7 linked regions of the Homo sapiens genome follow. The protein of the gene in region 6 purifies or fractionates together with the protein of the main gene of each other region. This does not show direct contact. Each region holds a gene or a part of one and is shown on either strand. Other genes may lie near its edges.

The links.
Region 1: the proteins of USP29 (region 6) and RFWD3 purify together in Homo sapiens (affinity purification with mass spectrometry; one large-scale study listed by BioGRID and IntAct). This does not show direct contact.
Region 2: the proteins of USP29 (region 6) and CTSB purify together in Homo sapiens (affinity purification with mass spectrometry; one large-scale study listed by BioGRID and IntAct). This does not show direct contact.
Region 3: the proteins of USP29 (region 6) and EPAS1 purify together in Homo sapiens (affinity purification with western blotting, with the first as the bait; one study listed by BioGRID). This does not show direct contact.
Region 4: the proteins of USP29 (region 6) and KMT5A purify together in Homo sapiens (affinity purification with western blotting; one study listed by BioGRID). This does not show direct contact.
Region 5: the proteins of USP29 (region 6) and KIF11 purify together in Homo sapiens (affinity purification with mass spectrometry; one study listed by BioGRID and IntAct). This does not show direct contact.
Region 7: the proteins of USP29 (region 6) and CGAS purify together in Homo sapiens (affinity purification with western blotting; one study listed by BioGRID). This does not show direct contact.

The regions. Positions count from the first base shown.
Region 1 is NC_000016.10:74,635,878-74,639,377, forward strand, and holds part of RFWD3 (E3 ubiquitin-protein ligase RFWD3), read right to left. Parts: intron 2,094-3,500; coding exon 1,979-2,093; intron 701-1,978; coding exon 469-700; intron 1-468. UniProt on the Homo sapiens protein: E3 ubiquitin-protein ligase required for the repair of DNA interstrand cross-links (ICL) in response to DNA damage. Plays a key role in RPA-mediated DNA damage signaling and repair.
Region 2 is NC_000008.11:11,851,088-11,854,587, forward strand, and holds part of CTSB (cathepsin B isoform 1 preproprotein), read right to left. Parts: intron 2,393-3,500; 5' UTR 2,368-2,392; coding exon 2,242-2,367; intron 1,609-2,241; coding exon 1,523-1,608; intron 1-1,522. UniProt on the Homo sapiens protein: Thiol protease which is believed to participate in intracellular degradation and turnover of proteins. Cleaves matrix extracellular phosphoglycoprotein MEPE. Involved in the solubilization of cross-linked TG/thyroglobulin in the thyroid follicle lumen.
Region 3 is NC_000002.12:46,356,407-46,359,906, reverse strand, and holds part of EPAS1 (endothelial PAS domain-containing protein 1), read right to left. Parts: intron 3,184-3,500; coding exon 3,099-3,183; intron 1-3,098.
Region 4 is NC_000012.12:123,394,132-123,397,631, reverse strand, and holds part of KMT5A (N-lysine methyltransferase KMT5A), read right to left. Parts: intron 2,586-3,500; coding exon 2,366-2,585; intron 1,288-2,365; coding exon 1,200-1,287; intron 1-1,199. UniProt on the Homo sapiens protein: Protein-lysine N-methyltransferase that monomethylates both histones and non-histone proteins. Specifically monomethylates 'Lys-20' of histone H4 (H4K20me1).
Region 5 is NC_000010.11:92,631,130-92,634,629, reverse strand, and holds part of KIF11 (kinesin-like protein KIF11), read right to left. Parts: intron 2,145-3,500; coding exon 1,937-2,144; intron 1,008-1,936; coding exon 835-1,007; intron 1-834. UniProt on the Homo sapiens protein: Motor protein required for establishing a bipolar spindle and thus contributing to chromosome congression during mitosis. Required in non-mitotic cells for transport of secretory proteins from the Golgi complex to the cell surface.
Region 6 is NC_000019.10:57,118,551-57,122,784, reverse strand, and holds the start of USP29 (ubiquitin carboxyl-terminal hydrolase 29), read right to left. Parts: upstream 2,801-4,234; 5' UTR 2,556-2,800; intron 461-2,555; 5' UTR 311-460; intron 1-310.
Region 7 is NC_000006.12:73,428,298-73,431,797, forward strand, and holds part of CGAS (cyclic GMP-AMP synthase), read right to left. Parts: intron 515-3,500; coding exon 412-514; intron 1-411. UniProt on the Homo sapiens protein: Nucleotidyltransferase that catalyzes the formation of cyclic GMP-AMP (2',3'-cGAMP) from ATP and GTP and plays a key role in innate immunity.

The sequences.
Region 1 (3,500 bases), on a different chromosome or scaffold from region 6:
GAGAGAAAATTAACCTAGTATTAATAAAATAATCAATTTACTCCCTAAATTCTCTTATTTGGAAATTGTTAACTTGAACACTATTGTAAGTAAATATTAAATTTTGTTTCACCTTGAATTAACCCTTAGGGCTGTGTTTTGTCAAACATTTCCAGTCTAAAATGCATCTGTAAGTTGAGGACATATAAGTCCTTCTTGGACTATATCAGTAACCTACACTTCCAAGGACCTCACCATCTGCTTTATCATGGTTATCAGTATTTCTACCCTCTTGGTTAATAAATTTACAGAATGAAGTCAACAGACAGTAAAGACATCTTTGCAGCACCCTGGGGTACTTGCATTAACAAGGAACTAATAGGGAAAGGTGATTTGGTAACCTTTGAGTCTTGAATTTTCCAAAAGGCAAGGAAATAAATATATGGAGTCTAATAAAGAACATGAAAGCTGAGGTTCTAGACTCTTTACCTGGAAGAAAAGAGGCCTGAGGAGAAGGCTGTGATATCACCAGGCAGCTCAGAGCATCACAGTATGCCATGATCCGGCAGTTTCCTGCCTGAGATACTGTGAAGGTCTTTTGGAAGTGGTACTTGTGCTTGTGCTGGCCCTGGCTGGAGGGTGAGCAGCTCAGGACCCATGCTTGGGAGCCCCTGGGTTGCTGTAAATTCTGACTTTGATGTGACGTAAGTTTTTGCAAGTCCTAAAATGAAAAAGATTTTATAAATACAAAGCTTTTTAATTTGATATTCCCCTCAAATACAATTCCTTGATCTTTTACAGGAAGATTTTTTATCCATTATATGAAAGTGTTAACATGAATCCTAGAGAACTGCAGAGTTTTTGTTTTTTTTTTTAAGACGGAGTCTCACTCTGTCACCCAGGCTGGAGTGCAGTGGGACCATGTTGGCTCACTGCAACCTCCATCTCCTGGGTTCAAGCACTTCTGCCTCAGCCTCCTGAGTAGCTGGGATTACATGCACCCACTACCATGCCCGGCTAATTTTTAAATATTTTTAGTAGAGATGGGGTTTTACCACGTTGGCCGGGCTGGTCTTGAACTCCTGACCTCAGGTGATCCACCCGCCTCGGCCGCCCAAAGTGCTGGGATTACAGGCGTGAGCCACCGCGCCCGGCCAGAACTGCTGAGTTTTTACAGTATTTCAACAAGCAAGTGAAATAAGGAGAGCACAGAATCATAATATGAGGGTTGAAAGTCCTTAATGGTGGTTTCGTTTAAAGTCCTTTAAAAAAAAAAAAAAAAAAAAAAACAACTTAAAAGGAGACAGGGTCTCACTCTGTCATCCATGGCATCCAGGCTGGAGTGCAGTAGTGCGATCACAGCTCATTGTAACCTTCAAACTCCTGGTAAAGCCCTCATTTTACTAGTAGATTTAGGAAGGTAAAATTACTTAAACAAGTTTGGAATTCTTGGTTGGCTATTTAATTTTTTCTAAAATTCAGATTGTAAGGCCAGGTGCAGTGCTCACGCCTGTAATCCCAGCACTTTGGGAAGCCAAGGCAGGCGGATCACCTGAAGTCAGGTGTTCAAGACTAGCCTGGCCATCATGGTGAAACCCTGTCTCTACTAAAAGTACAAAAATTAGCTGGGCATGGTGGTGGGCTCCTGTAATCCCAGCACCTCGAGATGCTGAGGCTGAGGCAGGAGAACCGCTTGAACCCAGGAGACAGAGGTTGCAGTGAGCCGAGATCACATCACTGCACTCCAGCCTAGGTGACAGAGTGAGACTCTGCCTCAAAAAAATAAAAAATAAAATTCAGACTATAGTAGACCTCATCATAAAGTGTGTAGTAAGTTTTGAACAGATGCCCTAATCAGAAATAAAATAAGGAGTTGGTCATGTTCATTTCCTAAACAACTTGGCAAATCCTATTTGTTTCTGAGATGAACATAACTAACATTAGCTTCCTCTTCCATTCCTATTCCAAAAGTTCTTTGGATTAGAAAGGACAAACGTACCTGAACACGCCTTTGAAGCCTAGTGCACTTATCAGTGAGGACCTGCAGTTGGAGTCGGCACTGTGCTGATTCTAACTCGGCCTGTTTCCTTAGCATCTGTTCCTTCAGTAGGGAACTAGAGGGGGAAAGCCAGCAACAAGTGGGGATTAGGAAGGCTACAGAAGACTTCCCATCCAGGTGGCAGAGTTAAGTTCATGCTATGATGCACGTTCTTTGCTGTAAATATGTTATGATAGTGAATAAAATATAAAAAGAGAAAAATCTCTCCAGAAACAGGTTTTAGGGTAAGCAGGGAGTGATGGTCAGGAATTTGACTATTACTAGAAAATGGGGACTAAAAATGCCACAGGCAAAACGAGAGAACAGAGCTAATCTAGTGTTCAGCTACGGCAAATTGTAAAAGATTAAACTGACATGTTAAAAGGCCAAGGTTACTGGATTAAAAAGGAAACAGTAAGCTGTTGGTTGTTCATGAGATACTCAAATAATATAACCCAAAAAAGAATCTGAAGTTAAAAAGAGCAAAAGTAGACATCAAGCAAATATTAACAAAGGAAAGACCAATTAGAATTAAGGAAAAAGCATAAATAGGCATAACGAGGAACAATGTATCATAAAAGGACACATTCACCAAGAATAACAAATATATATTTGTATGTACCTAAAAACAGTCTCAAAATATGAAATGCAAAGACAGAATTCCACTCCAGTAAGATATGCAAGAAAAAGATGAAAATTGGAAAAGATAAAGCTGCCCTTATTAATTTTTATGGCAAATTTAAGAGAACCCCCAAAACAATTACAGTTTAGCAACGCTGCTGGACTCAAGACCAAAAAAATTAGATCAACAGCAGTCCTCATCAGATAACTGATTAGTAAATGTAATTTAAAAAATTCATTCACAACAATTTTAACAGCAATCTAGAAATACAGTCATGTGCAGCTTAATGATGTGGGCATGTTCTGAGAAACATGTTGTTAGGTGATTTCGTCATGTAAACATTACAGAATGTACTTACAGAAACCTACACAGTATAGCCTACTACACACCTAAGCTATATACTGTTGCTCCCAGGCTACAAACTTGTATAGTATGTTACCATAATGAATACTATAGGCAATGGTACTATAATGGTATTTATGTATCTAAACATAGAAAAGGTAATGCATTGAGCTAAGACTTTTTTTTTTTTTTTTTTTTTAGCCCGAGTCTCACTCCATTGCCTAGGCTGCAGAGCAGTGGCGTGATCCAGGCTCACGGCTACCTCCGCCCCCCGGGTTCAAGAGATTTCTTGCCTCAGCCTCCCAAGTAGCTGAGATGACCGGCACCTGCCAACACACCCAGCTAATTTTTGTATTTTTAGTAGAGACAGGGTTTCACCATGTTGCCCAGGCTGGTCTCAAACTCCTGGCCTCAAGTGATCCACCTGCCTCAGCCTCCCAAAGTGCTGGGATTACAGGTGTGAGCTACTACACCCAGTGCGCTAAGCCATTTCAATGATTACAACATCACTTACGCAAC
Region 2 (3,500 bases), on a different chromosome or scaffold from region 6:
ACAAGACATGCCGAAGAAGGCTGCAGACAGGTGTCCTTGGTAATTTCATAAAACAAAAGGAAATTCTGTTGCTCAATGCACCTTTTGATTTTTTTTTTGGGTGGGACGGGAGGGTGGGAGTGGACAGAATTTCACTGTGTCATCCAGGCTGGAGTGCAGTGGCGAGATCTCTGCCCACTGCAACCTCTGCCTCCTGAGTTCAATCGATTCTCGTGCCTCAGCCTCCTGAGTAGCTGGGATTACAGGCATGCACCACCACACCCGGCTAATTTTTGTATTTTTAGTAAAGACAGGGTTTCACCATGTTGGCCAGGCTGGTCTTAAACTCCTGGCTTCAAATGATCTGCCTGCCTTGGCCTCCCAAAGTGCTGGGATTACAGGCATGATCCACCACACCTGGCCTGACTTGCGATATTGTACGCTTCTTTCTAGGCTTATGTAATGGATTTTTTAAGATGAATTTATCCACAAATTATAAACTCATTTTTAAATAAGTTTATTCAGTCCAGATAGTGTTTCTTGCCCTGCTCTCCTGCCTCAACCTCTGCCCAGGATCCTCTCATCATTTCTCATATCATCCCCATTGTGCAGAAGGCAGTGTCGTGCAACTTAACTACCCCATCCTCACGTGGGAAGTGGCATCATCTCAGCTCACCGCAACCTCTGCCTCCCGGGTTCATGCGATTCTCTAGCCTCAGCCTCCCGAGTAGCTGGGATTACAGGCGCCCGCCACCACGCCTGGCAAAGTTTTTTATTTTTAGTAGAGACGGGGTTTCATCATGTTGGTCAGACTGGTCTCGAACTCCTGACCTCAGGTGATCCGCTTGCCTTGGCATCCCAAAGTGCTGGGATTACAGGCGTGAGCCACCATACTTGGCCTCATCTGGCTTTTCTTAGATTTCCCTTAAATTACTCAAGATTGAGTCTGCCCACATAGTGGGGACCCAGACCTTGTCTGTCACATCTGCGGCTGAGACACCTTGGAGAAGCACAATAGAAAACACTGGGGGTGGCTCATGCCGGTAATCCCAGCACTCTGGGATGCCGAGTTGGGCAGATGACTTGCTGAGGCCAAGAGTTCGAGACGAGCCTGGCCAGTATGGCGAAACCCAGTCTCTACTAAAAATACAAATATTAGCCGTGCACGGTGGTGCAAGCCTGTGGCCCCAGCTACTCAGGAGGCTGTGGCATGAGAATCGCTTGAACCCGGGAGACAGAGTTTGCAGTGAGCCAAGATCGTGCCACTGCACTCCAGCCTGGGTGACAGAGTGAGACTCTCTCAAAAACCAAAAAAAAGCACCAGCATCTTCTCTACTAATAACTTGAGAAGGAAAAAATAAAATAAAAAGAGAAAGTAATATAAAAATGAAAAGAAACAAGTACTGTACCTCAAGCGGTGTCGGCAGCCCTGGGCAGCATGAGCCCTGCGGACGCCAGAGAGGCCTTCACTCTCCCACTTCCCACTGCCCCAAACCAACGCCTGCCACTCACATTACAGCGGTGCAGAGGAGCAGGCACTCACCTCTGGGGTGGCTTGGGCCCACCCAGGAAGGTACCACATAGCCTCTTCAAGTAGCTCATGTCCACGTTGTAGAAGTTGTGCCCGGCCTGGAAGAGAGTCACCCACTGACTGAAGGGTCTCCCGGGATGGCGGTGGATGGGCACGCTGCCCACACACGAAGCCCAACCCAGGGAAAACCAGAGACCCTACCCAATTCAAGGGCCCAAGGGTTGGGGGGCACTGGGGAACAGCCCAGAGTGACACACGGGCAGAGTGGGTGTCTCCCCTGATCTGCTCCCATTTGCTGACAATCAGAGACCCTCTCCAGCCCTCAACATGGCTCACTCCTCATTCTTGGTTCTCAGTCCGAGGGTCAGGGCTGGGCAGAGACAAAGGGAATCAGGGGCGGGACTGATAAACTGCCACTGTGCCACGGCGGGCGTCACAGGGGCTAGCTGGTTTTGAACACTTCCGAAGCTCACTTACTCCCCCACACACCTCCACGTGCACACAACCATATATTCATACACATGCACACACACTCATGCACACACGTGGGGTATGGGACAAAGGAGGGAGGCGTGGTCCAGAGCCGACATGACTCAGGGTCAGGGCCATTTTTCAACAGTCCAGGACAATGTTCTGTGGGCCACAGTGAGGGCTGGCTTCCCATTCCTGGAGTCAGTGTGCACAGACCGACCTGGGAGGGGACATACATAGGACGCAGCCCCACAGCCTACCTGCCACGTGGTATTCCGTTTGTTGACATAGTTGACCAGCTCATCCGACAGGGGATGGAAAGAGGGCCTGCTCCGGGCATTGGCCAACACCAGCAGGCAGCAGAGGGAGGCCCAGAGCTGCCACATGTTGGAAGCCGGATCCTAGATCCACCTGGAGAGGACAGAGGGCATCAGGACACCTCTCTGTTATGTGGGTCGAGGGCTCACACACACAGGGGCACCGTCTCGGGCATCAGTGGGGACCCCCATGCTCGTCCTGGCCCAGGCGGAGAACTCTTAAGGAGCTGAGGTGTCTATGGGATCCCCGCCCCCCTGCCCGAAGCACGCCATGACCTCGTGTGGGTCCCCGGGGGCCAGGCGGCCAGAGCCCAGAGAGAGAGCCAAGGGGCTGTGCTGGACGAGACCGAGTCCAGGGCCTTCGCTGCTATTTTTAAACGGCCTTTGCATGGATTTGTAGAACAGCTTGAGACACTTTCCCAAGTGAGTGATATGAAACAGTTAAGAGCCTGTCTGTGTGATTACACCCTAAGTGGAGGACCCAGGGGACAGGGAAATGTAAGAAAAGTTACAATCCAGGAGTCCTAGTTTCGACAGGACACAGACAAACAAGCTCGGTGTGGGCTGGTGGAGGTTGAGGCTGAGAGGTGGGGCTGGGCTGGCCATCCACCCACTCCCGGGGCCTCTCTGGTTTTTCCAGTCAGCCAAGGGCTCTGCTTCCGGCTGCGGAGATGAGGCTTCTGAGAAGGAAAACTCTCACCTCGATGCCCCAGCCGTTTGATCTTGCACTGGCTCATGAGTCACAAGCCAGTGCTTTCCAGCTTGAACTCTGAGTCACCCTCCTAAGTGAGCAGCTCAACAAAAGCAATACATGTCTCCTGGGCGCCTGCATCCAGGGCTGGGGAGAGCCGCGGCGCGGGGAGCTGGGTGAGGCAGGGGTTCCTGTCAGTCACTCCAGGGGCTCCCACGGGTGGGTGAGGTGTTCTACCTCCCACAGGTCACAGGTCGTCATGAAAGTCACAGGACTGCGGTGTCAGTGCTTAACAAACTGCCTGGCACCTAGGGGTTCTATCTGAAGAACAATTTAAACTTCATTGTTGCTTAAGCAACAATTCATCTAGGAGAATAAATATATGAGGACAGCAAGATGGCTCTGGAAAAAAGCTTTTTTTTTTTTTTTGAGACAGGGTCTTGGTCTGTGGGCCATGTCACCCAGTCTGGGGTACAGTGGCACAATCTTGGCTCACTGCAGCCTCCACCTC
Region 3 (3,500 bases), on a different chromosome or scaffold from region 6:
CCAAACAGCCTCCCGATTCAGAACCATTTTCCACTTTTTGTAAAACAAAGTAATGAAGAGTGCCAGCTGAATCCCACTTGTCTGTGTCTAAATCCTGCCTACACCACCATCTCTGGTACCTACTTTCAAAGATATAATCCTGCCCCCTACCCAGCATCATAGAACAATCTAGAGCCTTGTTTCGAATAGTCACACTCCTTCCTCCAGGAACAGTCACCAGCCCCTGCACTTAAACTTCCAGAGGATCTTGACTGACATATTCCTGAAGAGTTATGTGTCAAAGGAACTGTGGCACCCTTGAACAAAACTTCAACATCCTTAGGGGACCCCACTCAGTAACAGACTGAATAGTGAATTTTTTTAAAAAAGAGAGAACATTCCTTCATCACGATTATAAAACCATTTCTCCCATACCAAATTATGATTCTTGCCATTTTAATTTTCAGAGGTGGGGTTAGCATACAATGAGATATACCTGTATCTTGGGATCTGGCCCCACCACCAGGACCAGACCAGTTGTTGGGTATAAGGGGGCTGGAGGGATTCATTTGTGGCTGTTGCTGGGGTATTATTGAGGCCTCTTAACTTGCTAACCTCTGGATTCTCCCCATGCTGACATTTGATCTTTTTTTTTTTTTTTTTTTTTTTTGAGACAGAATCTTGCTCTGTCGCCAGGCTGGAGTGCAGTGGCGTGATCTTGGCTCACTGCAACCTCTGCCTCCTGGGTTCAAGTGATTCTCCTGCCTCAGCCTCCCAAGTAGCTGGGACTACAGGCACGCGCCACCACGCCCAGCTAATTTTTGTATTTTTGGTAGAGATGGGGTTTCACCATGTTGGCCAGGATGGTCTCGATCTCTTGATCTCGTGATCCACCCACCTTGGCCTCCGAAAGTCCTGGGATTACAGGCGTGAGCCACCGTGCCTGGCCTTGTTCATTCTTTCTAAACACTGCTCCACACAGATCACTCCACCCCTGCACAGAAACCTTCAATAGCTCCCCATTGTCTATGGAATAAAGTTCAAGGCCCTCCACCTGGCCTTCAAAGCCTTCCACAATCTGCCTCATGGCTTTCTTTTCCTCTAGGAACTCACACTAACCCTTTAGGTCTAGATCACGAGTCCACCCATAGGCTGGCACCTTCAGTGAAGATTTGCTGTTGCATTGAGTTTGACTGATCCCAAGTCCTCAATATGCAGATCAAGAGATCTAAAGTTCTACTCAGATAATTAGAGGTCACTTGGCTGTGAATCATGGCACTTGAGAACTGAAAGGTTGTCGCCTTTGCCTAGTCCAATACCATCAATTTGAAAAGAAAGACTCTGAGGAACAGAGAAGTAGGGTACTTGCTTCTGGTCACAGACTCAAACTCAGACTATGGTCAGTGGCTGAACTGACACTAAGAACCCAAAGGCCAAAGGGTTTCTGGAGTACAGAAGAAATCAGTCTTTGGTTTTCTCAGGCTTTCTCAGGCTTCAAGCACCTACCCATGCAGAACATGAATCCTCTTTTTAGAGAGCTTTAGAAAGTCTGGTAGCCCTTTCCCCACAGAACCAGACAAGACACTGAGCAGCCTACAGGGTGCTCTCTGCCAGTGTACCCTAGGACCCAGGTGGTCTAAGGCCTGCAGAAGAGAGAGCAGAGGAGCTGGGTGAGGGAGCTGTGGCAGTGGTAGAAGAGGAGGTGGTTGTGATTCTGTACTTTGCAGGCCCAAATGTGGACTGCAGACTCAGTCTGTAATAGGGTGGAGGTGAGCCAATGAAGTGTCTGTTTTTGCAGCGTGTGTGGTAATAAGAGCCAAACCTTGTAGGCTTAGCCTCACTGCCTCTGTTATTCAGGCTGGACAAGCACAAGCCCCATGGCAGTGACAGGTGAGGTTGTTAAAGAGGACATCTAGACATGCACAGAATCTCCCCAGACCAGTGACAGAATCTCAGGTTTGGAAGGGACCTTGACAGTCATTAAGCCCCAATTCTGACCAAAGCTTCAGTCCTCTTAACAATGTCCCTATTCATGCCTTTGTTGAATGGCCACAGTTACAAGACAGGAAGCTCCACTGCCATTGCAACCATTGCAACGTGCTTTCTGCCTGTGTGGGTCCTCTCATCTACTGGCACCTGCTGGGTATCCCCATGGGTAAGGTCCTGAATGCTACATCTTTTTAAACCTCTTCTCCATCAAAACCTACTTGACCTGCGTCTCATCAGGGTACCATTTCCTGTGGTAGCTCTTCTCCAAAAGTAGCTCCAACAAGCCATGCCTTTTGACACTCATGGCTTCGTGTAGTTTCCTCCCACAATGAGCCAGGGCTGGCCTGTAACATGCTCTAACCAACAAGATGGGGCAGAAGTGATGCTCTGCCAATCTGGGGACAAAGCCTTCAGAAGGCCTGGCAGCTTCCACTTTAGTGCTTCTGGGAGCCCTAAACTGCCACGTAAGATGTCTGGCTACCCTAGAGACACCATATGGAGAGGGAGAGTCTCTGAGTCTCCATAGAGTGAGAGAACAGTCCTGTTGTCCCAGCATGCCAACTGAGTCCAGGGTTCCAGCCACCTGCCACAAGGTCCCAGACGTGTGTGAGCTATCCTGATCACCCCAGCCTAGTCTGGCCCCCAGATGACTGCAGCCCAGCTGACATCACATGGAGTACAAGACCCACCCACTGAACCCACAGAACCCTGGGAGATAATCATCAAAGCCCTATGTTATAGGTGGTTTGTTAGACAGCAATAGATAACTACAGTAGTTACTATGAGCACTTTGGCACAGACTAGTTCCTCATTGGTTTGGGTGGTGTCATTTGGCAGAGATGCTTGACTCTTGGGTGATGAAACCTCCTAGAGACAGTGTCCTAACCCAAAGGTGTCCCCTAGTAGTGGGACACCAGGCACCATGCAGGGCCAGCAGGAGATATTTCTGAGTACTGGATCCTCTCAATGCCCCAATCTCATCTCACAGGCTACATACTTAAATTTTTTAAGGACATCCATTTTTCCTGCATCACAAGGGCCATGAGCTATCTCCCTTATACCCGTAGACAAAGGGGAGGCAGATTCCCACCCAGTGGGGGCAAGAAGGAAGTAAACACAATTAAGGATACCATTTTTGAGACTCAGGTTCTCACGAATCTCCTCATGGTCGCAGGGATGAGTGAAGTCAAAGATACTATGTCCTGTTAGCTCCACCTGTTTCAAAAACAAGGTTAGGCATCATTATTCCTAACAGTGAAGTAAAAGACTCCAAGAGTAAGCTGAGCCACCTTCCAGATTTGGAGGCAGGGAGGAGACTGAATTGGGTTTTCTCATAATCCCAGTCCAGTGTCAGGTCCACAGACAGAAAGATGTAATCGGGGACTACTGATGATGACAGAGACTTGGTCTGTTAATGAGTCAGTAGAGAGCTGTCTACCAGGATGGACATGAGCAAAGCCAAACCCAATGCTTGGGGGTGGGAGCGTGGCCTGAGGCGTGTGGCCTGAGGTCAGCGAGGGTCACCGTGGGCA
Region 4 (3,500 bases), on a different chromosome or scaffold from region 6:
TGTTTTAAACAGCTCATTCTTGGCTGAAAGACATTGCCTTTTTCAGGCAATAAAACCAAAGCTGCTCTCTGTGGGGAAGAAAATGGACCTTTTTAAAAATTTTTTTTAAATGAAGCTTCATCAATTAAAAGAAAAAGAGAAAGAATACTAGACCACTGTGTATCTGCGCATTTAACATCAAGAACGCTGAAGGAGTCCGCATGAGGGCTGAAATGCTGAAACTGCCAAAGCCGGGGTCCCCACCTCTCTGTGTAGGATGCAATCCTGAGCACCTCTCCCAACCCGGTGGTCACTGTGGGGGTGAGGGAGAGCAGAGGGGCAGCCCCAGGTGTCCCTGAGGGGGAAGAGCAGAGGGACCTGCCATGCCCTGCGTTTCCTTCACAGAAAGGCAATAACCACACCTCACTGCAGCAAATATTGACTGCCTGCCGCATAGCTCAACCCTCTGCAAACATGGCAGCGGAGGCCCGCATAGGCCAGCTGGCCTTCCAGCCGGTGCTGCTCACTGGTCTGCAGGCTCCTAGTATGGCAGCAGCGTGGGAAAGAGCAGACGGGAGTGACAACACTGAGGAAGCAGAGGTGGCGATAGTAACAGTTAGCTGGCACTTACTGAGTGCCAAGCATGGTTCTAAGGGTTCCTCTTGCATGACCACATTTATTGAATGCTCACCACAGCTCTAGCAGGTACTACATTATTGTACCATTTTACAGACTGGAGAGCCAAGGCATGGACAGGGTAAGTGACTGGCCCAAGGCTACGCAACCAGCAAGTGGCCCCAAGCCACTGCTGTTTAACACCCTGGGCCACAACATGGAAACTTCCAGAAAACAGACAAGAAAAGCCTCTGAAAGAACAGGCAGCCTTTCCCACAGTCCCAGGCTCCCAATGGCTCTGCCAACAAGTCCTGGAAAATCCACCTTCAGAGTCACACCTGGCTTTCCCTGCCACATGCTACAAGTCACAAGGTTCCTTCACACAAGTGTCTTAACCAAGCCCTGCAGTGACCCCAGCAGAAAGGCAGGACAAGCTTTGTGAGGATCCCCGATAGATCCAGGAGAAAACCAAGTCCAGAGGGGCCAAGAGACTTGCTCCAAGATGACGAAAACAAGGCTGAGGACACACACATACGCACACGCCAAGCACTGCTTGGTGGGCCACCCTGCCCCTCCACAAACTGGAATTTAAAGCACGTGACTACCTGCAGCTCGGCTTTGCTCTTCCTGGAGCTCCTTCGGACAGGGTAGAAATCCGTAAGTTTGCGATTCTGTTGCGTTTTTCCTTGAGCTCTGGGTAAGAGGGGAAGAGGAGAAAATAAATATCAGGACTGAAAACCTGGAGGCACACAGCTCCTTAGAAGGCACACACCGAGGAGGCACACAGCTCCTTGGAGATGATGTCACTTAAACACCTTTGTCCACTGGAGCCTGCAGGTCACTCAGTCACCTGCCCATGAGGGCCTCAGAGGAGTTTCAAAGACGGGCTGCTGGCTGGGCGCAGTGCCTCATGCCTGTAATGCCAACACTCTGGGAGGCTGAGGCGGGAGGATCACTTGAGCCCAGGAGTTCAAGACCAACTCAGGCAACACAGCAAAACCCCGTCTCTAAAAAAAGGAAAGAAATTAGCCAGGCATGGTGGTGCACACCTATGGTCCCAACTACTCGGGAGGCTGAAGTAGGAGGATCACTTGGTCCTGAGAGGTTGAGGCTGCAGTGAGCTACTGCACTCCAGCCTGGATGACAGAATAAGACCCTGTCTCAAAAAACACAACAGTCGGGCATGGTGGTTCACGCCTGTAATCCCAGGACTTTGGGAGGCTGAGGCAGGCAGATCACGAGGTCAGGAGTTTGAGACCAGCCTGACCAACATGGTGAAACCCTGTCTCTAATAAAAATACAAAAATAAGCGGGACATGGTGGCATGCACCTGTAATCCCAGTTACTCAGGAGGCTGAGGCAGGGGAATCGCTTGAACCCAGGAGGTGGTGTTTGCAGTGAGCCGAGATCGCACTATTGCACTCCAGCCTGGGCAACAAGAGACTCTGTCTCAAAAAAAAAAAAAAAAAAACACAAAACACCAATCACCAAAAAAGACAAACAAAAAAAATAAATTTAAAAAACAAAGGCTGCTTATGCTGGGGTGGGTAAGGAGGGGAGGAAGGAGAGGCTCTTGAACTCTGGACCCATGCCAGATCCAGAAACTGACAAACAGTGGCATCCCTGCTGATGACTCGGGGCATCTGAGTCTTTGACATGAGAGAGGCTGAGAGGTGGCCACTGAACCCCCATGGGCACCTGAGCAGGCTTCCCTGGCATCAGAGGAACCAAACTGCTCCACGTTAGGAAGAGGACTGAATGGGGCACTTACTTTTTTCGGGGGGCCTGTTTGCCCTTGATGGGCTTTTTCAGGGCTTGCTTGGCGATGGCTGCATTGGTGGAATCACAAGATGAGGGTGGAGTTTTTGGAGGTTCTGCTGCTTCAGATTTTTGGTTTGGAAAAGGTACCAGGGGACCTTTCCTGGCGTCTTTGATCTTCTGTTCCTCGGACTTCATGGCGCTCCGTACTGCGTTCCCAGCATTTCTTTTCTCTGCAGGCGGAGGTGGGGGAAAGACGGGTTTATTCTGTACTGTCTCTCAATTTCCAGACGACCAGCTGCATTCTAAGACAAGCTTTGAGAAGACAGGATCCTGGGTTTGTCAGGCAGGAGTGCCCTTGGCCTGTTAAGCCCCGTGTCCGCTATGGGCTATGACAGGGGGAGTGCCTAGCTCCAGCTCGATTTTTTGACCAAGACACTGGGCAGAGGTTTTAGGCTTTTGCATCTTGACGTGGGAGATAGAGAGCCTGTGAGGGAGAGGCACCAGAGACGGAGACGCTGGCAGGGTGCTTGATCAATAGCTTTCAGGAATCAGGTTGCAGACTCAGATCAAAAGCTCCATTCCTGAAGGCTGGGACAGCATTAGGGGACAGGAGTAAGGTGACAAAGCAGAAACTCTTCCCCAAGAGCTGCCTGGCACCCTTCATTTCAGACTCCGAAGAAAAAGAAGGTCCCCTTCTAGTGGGGTTGAAGCCCCAGGTTCACAGCAGTTCTCAGCATGGTGCCCCAGCAGACTGGCCTGGGTATCGGGAGACACACTGCAATGATCTGTCACTTAAAACACTTGTGGAGTGACAGTGTTGGAAAACTGCTTACCTTTTTAAAAAATGTTTTACTTTTAAATAACTAAGTAAATAGGCTGGACACAGTGGCTCCTGCCTGTAATCCCAGCACTTTGGGAAGCCGAGGCTGGCGGATCACCTGAGGTCGGGAGTTCAAGACCAGCCTGGCCAACATGGTAAACCCCATCTCTACTAAAAATACAAAAATTAGCCAAGTGTACTGGCGGACACTTGTAATCCCAGCTACTCAGGAGGCTGAGGCAGGAGAACTGCTTGAACCTGGGAGGCGGAGGTTGCAGTGAGCTAAGATCATGCCATTGCACTCCAACCTGGGCGAAAGAGTGAG
Region 5 (3,500 bases), on a different chromosome or scaffold from region 6:
TCTGGGAGAGAATAAACAGTGGAGAGATCTGTCTTTAAAAATATAAACGTACTCTCGGCCGGGCACGGTGGCTCACGCCTGTAATCCCAGCGCTTTGGGAGGCCGAGGTGGGTGGATTGCTTGAGGTTAGGAGCTTGAGACCAGCCTGACCAACATGGTAAAACACCATCTCTACTAAAAAAAAATACGAAAATTAGCCAGGCGTGGTGGCACATGCCTATAATTCCATCTACCCGGGAGGCTGAGGCAAGAGAACTGCTTGAACCCAGGAGGCAGAGGTTGCAGTGAGCCGAGAAAAGGAGAGGCTGAAAAAAATAAATAAATACAAATAAAGAAAAGGAGAGGCTGGCTGGGCACGGTGGCTCATGCCTGTAATCCCAGCACTTTGGGAGGCCGAGGCGGGTGGATCACAAGGTCAGGAGATCAAGACCATCCTGGCTAACACGGTGAAACCCCATCTCTACTAAAAATACAAAAAATTAGCCGGGTGTGGTGGTGGGCGCCTGTAGTCCCAGCTACTCGGGAGGCTAAGGCAGGAGAATGGCATGAACCCGGGAGGTAGAGCTTGCAGTGAGCCGAGATCACGCCACTGCACTCCTGGACGACAGAGCGAGACTCCATCTCAAAACAAACAAACAAAACAAAACAAAACAAAATATATATATATGTAGTCTCTCACAGTGACGTGTCTATGACTGTGTCTAGTAAAGCTCAGGAAGAAAGAATAGCAGTTAACATTGTTTATAAAGACTTATCAAATGTAACCCTTCAAAATATTTTATCAAATACTTATCAAATGCAACCCTTCAAAAATATTTTAAAGGATGTACTAACAATCAATTCCTGTAGTACAGTTTTACTTTCTGCTGCTAATGATTGTTCTTTTAGTATCATATTAAAAATCTGAGAAACATGAGTAGACACATTTTCTGGAATAGATGTGAGAGATCCAAGTGCTACTGTAGTAATGGTATCTAATGCAGAGACACTGGAAGACAGCAGATTACCTATAACAAACAAAAACAGAAAGATGTAAACTTTGACATAAATATATTAAATACCGTTCAAACCATTTCAAAGAAGTTGACAAAAGTATACCCTTGTTGTAGAATTTGTAATAACGAGCTTAAAAGAACTGGCTCACTACAAAGCAAGGAAATATTTAAATATACATTACAATTTTCTATAGTGCTCTGTAAGCCCTTAACATATTTGTAAGTGTATCAGACCCATAACTATAATTCATAGTACACAAAGAATTAGAATATTCTACAATTAATCTCTAACTAAAAATAATATACAGAATTATGGTAAGTTTACAGAAGAAAAAAAAAACTGGAAATCAATACCAAAAAGTATAGTGCTTGGCTTAGTGAGACTAGAGTCTAGATGATTTTTTAAATTTTTATATTTCTGAATGTCCAAATTTTCCATAATGAGGATAGTATTTCACACTAAATAAACATACTTTTTTCTAAAGGGAGATAATAGTTAAAAACAATGAGACACAAACATATTCTGACAATATAGCAAACCATCAAGATATATATGCCCCCCCCAAAAAAAGTTGCAGAATGTTTATGCACAAAAAATTTCCAGAAAAAGGCCCAAGAAATTTAACAATAACACCTATGGTCAATGACCCAGGGTCAGGAGCCGGAGTCAGGGAAAAAGAGGACTTCTACTTCTAACGTTTATATACTTAGTTACTTAATAAATGTAACATTTTATAGAAAACAGAAGGGAGGGTGGGGAGGGAAAAAAGATTTGTTTTAATTCAAAGACAATAAAAGCATTAATCTTCACCCTGAACAAATAGTTTGTGCATGGTAGAGAGTATTGGTGACACCGTCATCTATGTTTCACAAAATTATCAGTTTTGAAATCAACATTACACTTAACACATCAAGACTAGAACAGAACAGCCTGAACTTACCAAATAAGGTCTTATGTACTTCTAGCATGGCCTTTTGCTTTGAGCTGCCATCCTTAATTAATTCTTCCATATTATTAAACAGACTATTCAGGTTTTTGCCAAAAATATCCTGAGCTTCTGCATTGTGTTGGTCAACTGCCTTCTTACGATCCAGTTTGGAATGGAGACCAGATACATCTTTTGTAGTTTCTTCAACTGTGTTAAGCAGCTATATTTTTAAAAATAAGTGTTAGACAAAATGGATACGGTGAAAGGAATCTGATGAAAGTATCTACACAAGGATTTATCTTGATAAGAACTAGTAAATTTTCCAGCCTGGCCAACATGGTGAAACCCCGTCTCTACTAAAAATACAAAAATTAGCTGGGTGTGGTGGTACATACTTGTAGTTCCAGCTACTCAAGAGGCTGAGGCAGGAGAATTGCTTGAACCTGGGAGGTGGAGGTTGCAGTGAGCCAGAGATTGTGCCACTGCCACTCCAGCCGGGGTGACAGAGAGAGACTCTGTCTCAAAAAAAAAAAGTCAATTTTAGACATTGTATCAGAAGAAATGCTTTAACTCATGCTAATTTATCCAGATGCCCAGTAATGTTTATTTCCCTTCCTGTAGCCATCTACACAAGCAAGGAAAACTGATTTTTTCAGTTATTGCAATAATTATGCTTCCTCAGAAATTTTTTTCCTTCTATGTTCTACTATTTCCTCAGAAGTACACCTAATGGCCGGACGTGGTGGCTTACACCTGTAATCCCAACGCTCTGGGAGGCCTAGGCAGGTGGATCACCTGAGGTCAGGAGTTTGAGACCAGCCTGGCCAACATGGTGAAACCCAGTCTCTACTAAAAATACAAAATTAGCTGGGTGTGGTGGCAGGCGCTTGTAATCCCAGCTACTTGGGAGGCTGAGGCGGGAGAATCGCTTGAACCCGGGAGGCAAAGGTTACAGTGAACTGAGATGATGCCACTGCACTCCAGCCTGGGCTACAAAGCAAGAGTCTGTCTCAAAAAAAAAAAGTACAACTAATAAAAAATTAAAGGCCGGGCGCGGTGGCTCACGCCTGTAATCCCAGCACTTTGGGAGGCCGAGGTGGGTGGATCATGAGGTCAGGAGATCGAGACCATCCTGGCTAACAAGGTGAAACCCCGTCTCTACTAAAAATACAAAAAATTAGCCGGGCGCGGTGGCGGGCGCCTGTAGTCCCAGCTACTCGGGAGGCTGAGGCAGGAGAATGGCGTGAACCCGGGAAGCGGAGCTTGCAGTGAGCCGAGATTGCGCCACTGCAGTCCGCAGTCCGGCCTGGGCGACAGAGCGAGACTCCGTCTCAAAAAAAAAAAAAAAAAATTAAATACTTTCAACATCTTTCATCATCAGAACATACTAAATTCTTTTTTTTTTTTTTTCTGAAACAGAGTCTTGCTCTGTTACCCAGGCTGGAGTGCAGTGGCATGATCTCGGTTCACTGCAACCTCTGCCTCCTGGGTTCAAGTGATTCTCTTGCCTCAGCCTCCTGAGTAGATGGGATTATAGGCATGTGCCACCACGCCTGGCTAATTTTTGTATTTTTTT
Region 6 (4,234 bases):
TCATCATTTTCATTTTGGATGCATGCTCTTTTCTGAAAATGCCAATATCCAATGCCACAGAAAACAGAAAACTATCCCCTCAAAATAAAAACCCAGAATCAGGATTTTCGAATTTACAATTCAACCTCATAAAGGGTAGAAGATGAAATTCCCCTCATCACAATATCTGACAATATCTTTAGGGCATTAAGTTTAGACAGACCCTCCTTCCAACACTCACACACACATACACACACACACACACACACACACACACACACACACACACACATCCCATCACCCAAACAAGCAAACCTTGAATGAAACTTACAGTTTGGAGAGCTGTTCTGGGTGAGTGGATGATAATTCTTTTTTCAGAAATGAGATCTTGCTATGTTGCCCAGGGTGGTCCCAAACTCCTGGCCTCAATCGATCCTCCAGCCTCAGCCTTCCAAAGTGCCTGGATTAGACTCCATAGCGCCTGGAGGAGAATGATGGAAGTTGAGTCTGACAGTGATTATGATGTTCCGACCTTTTATTCCCAGGTGGCTCCACCCATATCACGGGTTTTTCCAGGAAATACGTTTCTTGATTAACTTATCTCTGTGTAAGAGTTTAAAATATTTGTCTAGAAAAGGCTAGATAGTGACTTATTTTACTTTATTTCAATTGGTAATTAAAAACTTTTATTTAGAAATCATTGCAAATATACATAAGAATTGCAAGATTAGTAGAAATAACTTATATTCCCTTCACCCAAATTTACCAATTGTGTATATTTTGCCACATCTGTCTGCTTTCTCTCTCCCTCTTTTGATGTTCTATGTATCTATCTATCTATCTATCTATCTATTTTTTAATAGAGACAAGGTCTTGCTATGTTGCCCAGGTCTCGAACTCCTGACCTCCAGTAATCCACCCGCCTCAGCCTCCCAAAGTGCTGGGATTACAGGCTTGAGCCACCATGCCCAGACATGTTCAAGTCCCTTATATAACAGGATATACTTTTACTCCACTTAATGTTTACCTGTTTTCTTTGTAGTAACCGTGCTTTTTGTTTTATATATATATAATTATATATATATAACATATATGTATATATATAACATATGTAAGTACATATAACATATGTAAGTATATATAACATATGTAAGTATATATAACATATAAGCATATATAACATACATATAAGCATATATAACATATATAAGTATATATAACATACATATAAGTATATATATAACATATATAAGTATACATAGCATATATAAGTATATATAGCATATATAAGTATATATAACATATATAAGTATATATAACATATAAGTATGTATAACATGTATAAGTATATATAACATATATAAGTATATAACATAAGTATATATAACATATAAGTATGTATAACATATATAAGTATATATAACATATATAAGTATATAACATAAGTAGATATAACATATATAAGTATATATAATATATAAGTACATAACATATATAAGTATATAACATATATAAGTATATATAACATATATAAGTATATATATAACATATATATCCTACATTTTCAACACGTGTAACAAATGTGGATAGTTTCAAAAAGATCATTTTACGTTCTAGTAGTTACCCTGTTTGACCAAAGTGTAGTACTTTTATTTTTCTATTGCAGTGCATTTTCTTTTTTTTTTTTGGCGGGAGGTGAGGGAGCGGAGCGGGGATGGAGTCTCACTCTGTCACCGAGGCTGGAGTTTAATGGCGTGATCTCGGCTCACTGCAGCCTCTGCTTCCTGGGTTCAAGTGATTCTCCTGCCTAAGCCTCCTGAGTAGCTGGGATTACAGGAGCCCGCCACCACGCCTGGCTAATTTTTTGTATTTTTAGTAGAGACGGGGTTTCGCTATGTTGCCCAGGCAGTCTCGAACTCCTGATCCGCCCGCCTTGGCCTCCCAAAGTTCTGGAATTACAGGAGTGAGCCACCGTGCCCGGCCTTTTTTCTGTTTTTTTTTTTTTTTTTTTTTTTTTGAGACGGAGTCTCTCGCTCTGTCGCCCAGGCTGGAGTGCAGTGGTGTGATCTCGGCTCACTGCAACCTCCACCTCTGGGGTTCAAGTGATTCTCCTGCCTCAGCCTCCCCAGTAGCTGGGATTACAGGCACCCACCATCATGGCCAGCTAATTTTTGTATTTTTAGTAGAGACAGGGTTTCACCTTGTTGGTCAGGCTGGTCTCAAACTCCTGACCTCAGGTGATCTACCCGCCTCGGCCTCCCAAAGTGCTGGCATGACAGGCGTGAGCCACCGACCCAGCCCTTTTTTCTTTTATATAGTTTTTGAGACAGGGTCTTGCTCTGTTGCCCAGGCTGGAGTGCAGTGGTGCGATCATACCTCACTACACCCTCGATCCCCAAGGCTCAAGTCATCCTCCAACCTCTGCCTCCTGACTATCTGACACTACAGGCGTGGGTAATTTTTAAATTTTTTTGAGACATAGTCTCACTTTGTTGTCCAGGCTGGAGTGCAGTGGCATGATCTCAGCTAGCTAATTTTAAAATTTTTTGTAGAGATGGGTGGGGGGAGGGTCTCACTATGTTGCCCAGGCTGGTCTCCAACTCCTGGGCACAAGCGATCCTCCCGCCTCGGCCTCCCAAAGTGCTGGGATTACAGGCATGAGCCTGGCCAGCATTTTCTGTTTGAATGTTTTTACGTAACCGGAGTCGTCATGATGGAGGTACAGTTCCTTGGACTTCCGGCTCCCATGGCTCTGGAAATCTCAGCTCGGACCCGCCCCTTCCGGCGCCGACTCCCCTGATTCTCCTGGGAACAGAAGAGTTCTGGGCACAGCACGCTGCGTCTGCGCAGTGCCGGGCGCAGGCCTCCCGACCTACGGGTCTAGGTACGGGCTCTAGCGTGGCCGGGGCACATAGAGTTCCTGGCCTAGAGCTGGTGGGGCGTAACGGCAGGAGTTAGGGTTCAGAGAAAACCAGCCCAGGGGCGGGTTCATCCTGTTACCCATTCAGCCTCAAGCGAGGTGGGGTGTGGTAGGTGGGCTGGTGCTAGAAACCACGCCGGGAATTGTTAATAACAGTCATCCCGGCCGGGCGCGGTGGCTCACGCCTGTCATCCCAGCACTTTGGGAGGCCGAGGAGGGCGGATCACCTGAGGTCAGGAGTTTGATATTAGCCTGACCAACGTGGCGAAACCCCGTCTCTACTAAAAATACAAAAATCAGCCGGGCATGGTGGTGGGCGCCTGTAATCCCAGCTACTCGGGAGGCTGAGGCAGGAGAATCGCTTGAACCCGGGAGGCGGAGGTTGCAGTGAGCGGAGATGGCGCCACTACAATCCAGCCTGGGCGACAGAGCGAGACTCCGTCTCAAAACAACAACAAAACCCCCAAAAAAGCGGTCATCCTCCAGGTGGAAGAGACAGAAGAGAGGGTGCGGAAGAGACTTAAAAGTCTTAGGCCTTCAAGCGTGTTTGCCTCAGCCACCCGTGAATCCTACAGGAAAACTAAAACAACTCGGCCACAAGCCCCCAAGTCTTGGGGAAGCGGACGGTTTCCCAGCCGAGCTTTAGGAGGAGGCGCCGCGGGACCTCACGGGTGACGTCGTCCCCGGGGGTAGTTTGCGCAGAGGGTCGCTTTGGGCGCGCTTAGAGTCGCGTGGTGCCTGGGCCAGCGAAGCCCAGGTGCAGTCATTTGTGGCCCTGTCCCGGCGCGCGAGGGGCCAAGGCTGGTCGGGGGCCGGGTCCGCGCGGTAGCAACTGCGTCCTGCCAGCTTCCATCTCTCCCTCTGAGGGCCTGAGCGGCTGCCAGAGTCAGGTCTGCAGGCCGGGCGCTCACGCGTCTGTGCCCAGTGAGGCCCCAAGATGCTGGTGAGGCCTCGACCCTGACTGGTGTCCAGGCTCTTGACACTGTCGTGAGAAGGAATTCATGGATGAGCAGAACAAAGTGTGGAGATTCATTGCGACGGGAATAAGTACGTACTGAAGAAAGAAAAGTGCAGGCATACCACAGAGCATCACGCCCAGCGGGGTTTGGAGCTACCTTTAAATATTTATTTAACCAAGGGGTGGAATATTCATGAAGATTCTTGGAAAAAGGTAAACATTTCTTGGTACTGCGGTGCCACACATTTTTATACTAAATACGGGTGTTCCCCAGAGCTGTCACAGTGGGTGTGTGACTTAGTATGTTAATGAGCACATAATGAGAGGTCCTAGGTGAAACGGGTCGAATCCAGCACCATGTTGGGTCCAGTCGGCTT
Region 7 (3,500 bases), on a different chromosome or scaffold from region 6:
ATCCCAAAGCAAGCCCAGTATCTAATAAGAGCGACCTTTTGGCCTCCTCCAATTATATGGCATTAATATCCATTACTTTTAAACAAGCAGAATACTAAGACCCATCGAATTGTCATGGCTAGTGCTCATACCCTCTCACTCTGTCCTACTGATACATCTATACAAAAACACATTCATCTGATCCAGGGTTCAGAACTACTATTCCCCGGCCTTGCCTTCTAACAACACCCTTTCCTTGGCCCTTTGGATCTAGCTTCTCTGGTTTCATACTCACACTCTCCCCAGCTCAACCCAATCCTGCCCTGCCCCCCAGACCCAACCCAGCTCAGCTCTTCAGGTCTGAGGTGTGGAGTCAACAAATAATTAAGCATACCATAGATAATCTGTCATTTAACAAAATAAGGCTGTTACCTGCAACATTTCTCTTCTTTGTTTTCACAGCACGTTTTAGATTTTCCATGATTGTTCAAAATTTCCTTTTCGATGTGAGAGAAGGATAGCCGCCATGTTTCTTCTTAATTTCAAAAAGAAAAACAAAAAAGCACTTTACCCAAAGCATCCATATCTAAACAATATTCAAGTGGTTTCCCTCATGAAAATATCCTGGGGCTGGGCATGGGGGCTCACGCCTGTAATCTCAGTACTTTGGGAGGCCGAGGAGGGTGGGTCACCTGAGGTCGGGAGTTCGAGACCAGCCTGACCAACATGGAGAAACCCATCTCTACCAAAAATACAAAAAAAAGTTATCCTGGCATGGTGGCACATGCCTGTAATCCCAGCTACTCGGGAGGCTGAGGAAGGAGAATCACTTGAACCTGGGAGGTGGAGGTTGCAGTGAGCCGAGATTGCACCATTGCACTCCAGCCTGGGCAACAAGAGCAAAACTCCATCAAAAAAAAAAAAAGAAAGAAAGAAAAAGAAAATATTCTGAAAAAATCTTAGGAGTGAATCAAAAGAAGTGAACAGATAAATAATTATGTATAAAAATAAGTACACTGAGACAAAAAATGGGCCTAACCGAAAAAAAAAGGAAGTCACAGTTTAATATAGTTAGCAATAGTAAGATGTATTACCTTTTATATATTGCTAAATTCCCTTTGTTAAATATTTTGTTTCAATAATAATTTGAATCAATTTATTCACTTTTTCTGTACCATCCTTACAGGTTTTATATTAATACAAAATGAATTGGGGACCATTTCCTTTATTCTTATTTATGAGAGTTTGTGTAAATATAGAATGATTTCACCTGGGCGCGGTGGCTCACGCCTGTAATCCCAGCACCTTGGGAGGCCAAGGTGGGCGGATCACAAGGTCGGGAGATCAAGACCATCCTGGCTAACACAGTGAAACCCTGCCTCTACCAAAAATACAAAAAATTAGCCGGGCGTGGTGGCGGGCGCCTGTAATCCCAGCTACTTGGGAGGCTGAGGCAGGAGAATGGCGCGAACCCGGGAGGTGGAGCTTGCAGTGAGCGGAGATCGCGCCACTGCACTCCAGCCTGGGCAACAGCACAAGACTCTGTCTCAAAAAAAAAAAATTTCTCCCCGAGTCTTACCATGGCTAGCTCTTTTATGCTCTGACCACCCTGTTACTTCGTGGTTTTATACTAGCAAAGTATAAGTAGTTTATAATCTGAATGATTTTTCAGAAAAATCAATCAATATAATCTGTCACATTAACAGAATAGAGGAGAAATACATGATTGTCTCAATAGATGAAGAAAATGAAGCTCTTAAAATCCTATAGTCGTTCATCATTAAAAAAACACCTCTTAGCAATCTAAGTCTAGATGGACACTTGATTCCATAAAAGGTAGATTTTAGAAAACTATAGCAACAATCATTATGTGAGGTAAAAAGTTGGAGAGAGAAATCAGAAAGAAGGCAAAACATCTGCTATCTCTATTTCTGTTCAACATGCACTGGGTGTCATAGCAAGCACAGTAAGGGAAGGAAAAACAGGGTTACACACTGGAAAGGGAGAAACAAAGCCATCATTATTCATAGGTGATGTAATTGCATATATAGGAAATACAAAAGAATCTACAATGCTGGGCATGGTGGTTCACGCCTGTAATCCCAGCACTTCAGGAGGCCGAGACAGGAGACCAGCCTGGCCAACATGGTGAAACACCATATCTACTAAAAATAGAAAGATTAGCTTAGCCAGTGTGGTGGCGTGTGCCTACACATACCACATGTATGTATGTATTTGTATATAGTCCCAGCTACTTGGGAGGCTGAGGCAGGAGAATCCCTTGAACCCGGAATGCCGAGGTTGCAGTGAGTCGAGATCACGCCACTGCACTCCAGCCTGGACAACAGAGCGAGGCTCCATCTCAAAAAAGAAAGAAAATGAAAAAAGAAAAAAAAAATTATGTAAATAAACTCACCAAATCAATTAAAAGAGTTACCAAGATTGTGGATACAAAAATCAAAGGTATTTTGATATATGGTAATAAACAAAAAATGAAATTTTGAGAAAGATGTTACTTACAATAGTATAAAAACTAGCAATTAGGCCAGGTGCAGTGGCTCATGCCTGTAATCCCAGCACCGTGGGAGGCCGAGGTGAGCAGATCACCTGAGATATGGGGTTCAAGAGCAGCCTGGCAAACATGGCGAAACTCCGTCGCTACTAAAAATACAAAAATTAGCCAGGCATTGTGGCACACAGTTGTAATCCCAGCTACTCAGGAGGCTGAGGCAGGGGAATCGCTTGAATTCAGGAGGCAGAGGTTGCAGTGAGCCAAGATCATGCCATTGCACTCCAGCCTGGATGACAGAGTGAGACTCAGTCTCAAAAAACAAAAACAAAAACAAAAAACAAACAAAAAAAAACACCCAACAGTTACCTTCTAGATCTAACTGCTAATGAAATATGGATGAGGCCAGGCACAGTGGCTCACTCCTGTAATCCCAGCACTTTGGGAGGCTGAGGCGGTGGATCACCTGAGGTCAGGAGTTCGAGACCAGCCGGACCAACATGGTGAAACCCCATTTCTACTAAAAATACAAACATTTAGCCGGGCATGGTGGCACAAGCCTGTAATCCCAGCTACTCTGGAGGCTAAGGCAGGAGAATCACTTAAACCTGGGAGGCGCAGGTTGCAGTGAGCCAAGATCGGGCGATTGCACTCCAGACTGGGCAACAAGAGCAAAACTCCCTCTCAAAAAAACAAAACAACAACAACAACAAAAAGAAATATGGATGAAAGCAGAACATGCTAAACGACACTTCTAGAATGCACTCTACAAACTCTCTTTGGGAAACTCTACAGGAAAAATAACCTGTTTCTTCAATGAGTAAATTGAAGTAAATTGAGTAAATTTTATTCAAGGAATAAAAAAGTTATGAAAGAGGAAGTTATGAGTTAAAAGAGATTTAACAGACATATTGGTCAGTCACAATGTATGAACCTTATTTGAATCCTGATCCAAACAGACTGATCCAAACATACAAAAAAAGTATGACACTTACAAGACAAGCGGAAATTT